2 separate regions of the Homo sapiens genome follow, and region 1 is linked to region 2. The links come from fine-mapping of genetic effects on gene expression. A gene starts in region 2. The other region holds a variant in brackets. All regions are shown on one strand. Distances are from middle to middle. Region 1 has its middle 30 kb from the start of UGT2B4. Region 2 holds the start of UGT2B4 (UDP glucuronosyltransferase family 2 member B4).

Region 1 (2,930 bases), 30 kb after region 2:
ATGTTAATAGATTTGTTTGATTATAAGATTGCCACAAACCCTCAACTTATGAGAAAAAAAAACCCAAATATCTGCAAAGCATGATAAAACAAAGTGCAATAAAATAAGGTATGCTTATCCTATGAAGCATATTATAATGCATCATGTTTCTGGTGCAGGGTCATCAGAAAACCAGAGAACATAATTATCCCTCTATGGAGCAATCAGAAAAAGCTGGTGTGACAGATAACATACAGGGTAAGACAAAAGCTTTGGCAGGATCTAGGCAGAGTGTGGCTAACGGAAAGAATTCACAGTGAGTAGAATGAGAAAAGGTCATGGTATTTAGAAAGCATTCCAGTAAGTATGAATTTTAGATTAAATTGTGTGCCAGAGATTATTTTTAAAAATTGGTTGAAATTGGAGACCTTACATAGCTTTGTACAGTACATATGGGGTTTTATTTTAATTTACAGGAAAAATAACCAAGTATTTAAGAAAGCCAGTCAAAATGTCAAGTGTTTGTTTGTTTGTATGTTTTGTTTTAAGCAATCAACTCTTGTTGCCAAACACAGATTGACAAGTAAAGTCAAGAGCTCACATGTAGGAAAAATGATTAAAATGTATATTAGTAGACTAAGTATGAGACCATAAGGGCTGGGGCTTGTCTTGATAATAGTAAATGTGAAGAACAGAGATTAAATTTGTGAATACTGACTGCATCTGAGACTAGAAGAAATGCACAAAAGCAAAGGCACTGATGTGGTTTCTACATGAATGATCAAAACACAGATAATGATATTAGGTAAAGTATGATACCAAACATGAATGGCATGTTTGGAAAAAAAATATGAACCATTTGAAATTTGTGTTCCTTCAGAGCTTAATTTTTTAATAAGTATTTTCCATATAAATAATTATAAATTTTTGGAGACTCATTTTTTGGGCAACGTGATATAGTTTCAAGATATGGGTTAGACAATAGATTATCTACTCAGGTATCTATGCACCTGCCATTTTTTCACATTACACATTCAATGCACAATTTATAGCACTTACCTAATCCATTCGTTGATGAGACATGTAAGAGAGCAAAAAACATTATGATGTAGTCCCTGTGCTCAAGCAGCTCACATGTTTATATTTAAACAAGTTGACTAACATTTATGTTTATATTAAAGAAAGGGCTCCAGGCTGGGCGAGGTGGCTCACACCGTTAATCCCAGCACTTTGGGAGGCCAAGGCGGGTGGATCAAGAGGTCAGGAGATCCAGACCATCCTGGCTAACACGGTGAAACCCCATCTCTACTAAAAATACAAAAAATTAGCCAGGCTTGGTGGCCGGCGCCTGTAGTCCCAGCTACTCCGGAGTCTGAGGCAGGAGAATGGCGTGAACCCGGGAGGCGGAGCTTAGAGTGAGCTGAGATTGC[G/A]CCACTGCACTCCAGCCTGGACAACAGAGCCACAGAGCCAGACTGCGTTTCAAAAAAAAAAAAAAAAAAAAAAAAAAAAAAAAAAAAAAAAAGGCTCCAATAGAGATAGTCCATAGTGAAGAGTGTTTAAAGAATATTTAGTACAGAAAGCCAAACACATTTAATTCTTTCAGATAAAGCTATGCTTCAGCTGTGACATGTCTCTAAGTGCTTAGAAAGTCAAAGGAATGCTATTTAAAACCCAAACCAACTTTAATAGCTTCTCCTTGCTAAGAAGAGAACCATAAGCAAATTGGGAGATATAGTCATTGATGGAATTTTTGAGAGAGGGTGAAAGGATCAGAGATTTTATAGTTTCTGGTAATTTTTTTTTCTTTGTTGTTGTTTTTGTTGGATACAACAAATGTGTCAGAGTCTCAGGGTAATTTATTTAGCAGAACCTATTTGAGAGGAAGATTTATAATTAGCAGTTGGATAATTTTTTCTTTCATAAATAGGCAAGATTGTAATAGAGTTTCTTGTAGCAATTGAGACAATGAATGGCACTCCAGAGGAAAAGAAAAAAATGCAAAAAAATAGTAATAAAGGAAATTTCTTAGAAGAAACTGAATTAAAAACTCTTTGAAAGGAAATATTATTTTCAAGCTGTATACAAAGCTCAGGCATGCTAGGATTACTGTATGGCTGTATCACTTTTATGAAACACACAAATTGGATTAAAAAGTTTATTCATAATAGCAAAAGACAAATGTCCTGTGGGAAGATTATATTTGCAATATATATGCCAAATAAAGATGAATTTTGCTTATGCTAGAAACTTGACCCTATCCAGAGAGGCCAAGCAGATACTTATATGATCTGGTGGCAGAATATAATTTTTAAAAAATTTTTCTTGGGAGTAAGTTGCCAGTATGTAACAAATTTGAGAATGTACTGTTTCCCTGAAAGCTACTAGAAGACACAGGAGAAATGACCATAAAGAGGAAAACACTAGACCTAAAAATTGTACACTCAACTGAGCACAATGACAAAGAGATACTGATGACTAAGATAGGCACATAATGCCTGGATAGTAAAGTCTTCACATTAGAGATTGTACGTGGATAATTCTAAGAAAAATATTTCTGGAAAACAGAGAATCTTTTCAATAGGTATACATGCACTCCTTAAGGTAAAGTTAAGATTATGATACAGTATGATATAGTATTATGTAAGTAACAACATAATAAAAATTATATAAATAAAAAGCAAAACATGAAGTTGCAGAACAGAAAGGTAGACAAAATACAATATTTGACTCTCCAGTGAATGAATGTACAAAGACTATAGAATATAATTACTAATTCCAAAGTAGTGGTGGCTTACAGTAATTAAGAATGAACGCAAAGGTGATGAAAGTTTTAAGGGAAGTAAAACTTAGGTAAGGGAACATACCTCAATAAATAATGAATAAACTTAATAAATCTTAATAAATCTTAAATAAACTTAAGAAAGACCTGTGACAATATGCTATGTTGTGGA
Region 2 (2,930 bases):
CATACCCATAAAAACAATTTTCTAACAAATAGTCTAATTTCCCATTCATTAATCTAATCTTTTATCTTTGGTTCTTCAGGTTAACTGTTGATTATTTTGAAATGATGGCTGAAATCCTTGTACCTACTACTGCTTTTGAGTCATGCTAACCTCATAATAATATTAGTTTTTAGGTAAATATGTTTGCAAATTACAGCTAGAAAATTTTGAGAACTTGTTGAAACAGAAATTTGCATTCAACCTTAATTTGGCTCATATTTTTAAAGAAAGATACATAGTTTCAAAAAAAAACTATACAGTTGTAACTTAATGTTCACACTTTGACAAGATGATTAGCCTTAAAATAAATGGTTTCCAATCCTTTAGTGAAGGAATAGAAACACTGGAAACTTCAAATAACATGCATTGGTTTTTGATTCTGAAATGGAGACATCATTTCTCTCAACTGTGGAGGAAACGTTCTAGTAACATGGGTACATATTGCAATTACTAAATAATAAGACTGAAATATACAAGAAAAAACAATTTCTGCAATGTTATATAGATAGTTCTAAAAAATGTGTAACTACTCAATCTACCAGTATGCATTCAGCAAGATGTTTCTGAATAAGTCTGACTTTTTTTTAAGATGAAAAAATGTATAATAAAACAGATATGTGATTGCTTAAAGAAATCTTAGGTGCACTAATATACAGGCTTATGACTTCCTGGAGTCTTCTGTATGAGTGATGGCCACAGAGTTTTAACTGATCCTATAATTTACATTTTCTATAGTGCTTGTGAGTTTGGTAGATCATCTTACAATTTCATTTGATAAATTCATTACAAAAATACCCCACTACCCTGACTTTATGGCTTTATACAAACTCAGCTTCAAAGGTACAAGAAAGTTAGATCTTCATGTTACCAATCAAAAAAGTTACTTACCTAGAACTTCACTGTAGAACTGATCCCACTTCTTCATGTCAAATATTTGGAACCAAAATTCAAAATAAAGCACATAGATCATATTTTTTACCCTCTCTATGAAAGTCATTTGGTCACTTAGTTCTGACATAACAACAGGCACATAGGAAGGAGGGAACAGAAGTCCTCCACTATGCTTTTCAATTGCGTAGCCAGGAGAGAAGCGGAGGCTGTAGACAAAGGGTATTTTAAGTAACTCGGCCAGCAGCTCACCAAAGGGGAAAACAGCATCTGCAAGAACAACATCAAATCTTGACTCCTGTAGTTTCTTCATAAGTTTCTTATTTGAAACTATATCCTTACAGAACTTTCTAAGTATGTCATTAAATGTCCACATGATTTCTTGTACTTGTGAAAAATATGACCAAAATGTGTCTTTTGGAAGTTCTGCCCATCTCTTAACCAGCTGCTTGATAATATCCTCAAACTCAGTTTTAGTTAAAGATACAGGATAAACTTCAAATTTAAGAGTAGATGGGCTGTTGGGATCGAAAGAAATGGAAGCTGAAGATGCCAATACAGTCACCTCATGACCTCTCTGGACAAGTTCATCCAGGATTGTCTTTATATTCATCCAGTGGCTGAATTCTGTGGGCCACACCAGCACCTTTCCACAACTCCCAGAGCTAAAGTAACAGCTCAGCTGTATCAGCAGAAGAGCTGAAGTCCATTTCATAGACATCCTGATGCAATGCAATGCTTGTTTTCCAGTTGCTGCTCCTTTCTGTCATTTCTCATGGTGACATCCAGTATAAATCAGTCAAGAAGTTAAAATGTAACTTTTACACTTCAAAGTAAATACATTATATTAACAGTCTGAGCATGTGGATGACAAAGAGACAAATAAAAGGTAGATGACCTGTTTACACAAGTGCGTTTAATGTTCTTTTTGGATTTTTTTTTTTTTGAGAGCTCACTGCAAGCTCCTCCTCCCAGGTTCACACCACTCTCCTGCCTCAGCCTCCTGAGTAGCTGGGACTACAGACAGGCACCTGCCACCGCACCCAGCTAATTTTTCTGTATTTTTAGTAGAGATGGGGTTTCACTGTATTCGGCAGGATGGTCTCGAACCCCTGACCTTGTGATCTGCCCTCCTTGGCCTCCCAAAGTGCTGGGATTACAGGCGTGAGCCACCGCACCCAGCCCTAGATTTTTAAGTGCTGTAATTCAGCTAATATCAATGATCTTGGATGGACTCATCACCTGACTCATGTAATATATTTCAGAATAGTGTGCATAAGAGTAGCAGTGAGAGGCTCATGTTCCTGCAGTCTCTTTGACACAGAACTAAAGATAAAATAGCTAAATGTGGTTCAAAAACTTTTGTAAATTTGTTGACGTATAATTCAGATATCATACAAATTATCAATTATTGTGTAAAATTTAATGTTTCATAGTATATTCACAGAATTGTGCTTCTACCGTAAGAGTCAATTTTAGAGAACTCTTATCTCCTAAAAATAAACCCTATAAGCTTTAGCCTTTTACTCCCTACCCCTTCTTTCTGCATTTGTCCTATCCTGGGCAACTGCTACTTGAATTTCTGTCTCTATAGATTTGCCTATTCTGGACATTTTTTAAATACATGGAATCACACAATATGTGATATTTTATGGCTGGCTTATTTTACTTAGCATAATATTTTAAAGGTTCATTTATGATATAGCATTTACGTGTTGATTCTTACAACCATCATGTATGATTTAGAGAGTTTCAAGATGAAACTATTCCTATAGACTTTGTTGAATTAATGAAGGACAAAGGGAGGGGAAAAAAAAAAAAAAAGTAAACCAAGCCTGTAGTACATTCAGTATTAATTATTACATTAGCTTGCTCTCTGACTCACTTCCTAATAGTTTTTTGGCTATTGTCTTAGAATTATGCAGACATTGTTACAAGATTAAAGTTCATCTTAACTGTTCTATAGATAATAACTTAAACATTTTGAAATGTGGTTTTCTCTT

What was found. PIP is the estimated chance that this variant, and not a neighbour inherited with it, causes the effect. A credible set is the group of variants that fine-mapping cannot tell apart.
Region 1: its variant is the best candidate, but not a certain one, in a credible set for the expression of UGT2B4 in lung (TOPMed, PIP 0.86).

Annotation. Positions count from the first base shown.
Region 1 is chr4:69,524,649-69,527,578 of GRCh38, forward strand. It overlaps a transcript of UGT2B4 not described here. Among named protein-coding and RNA genes, the nearest start is that of UGT2B4, 30 kb to the left of the region's middle. The variant G/A (reference allele first, on the strand shown) is at 1,410.
Region 2 is chr4:69,494,214-69,497,143 of GRCh38, forward strand. UGT2B4 (UDP glucuronosyltransferase family 2 member B4) reads right to left here and starts at 1,692. Exons shown (of 6, transcript NM_021139.3): 1 at 928-1,692. The coding sequence starts at 1,648.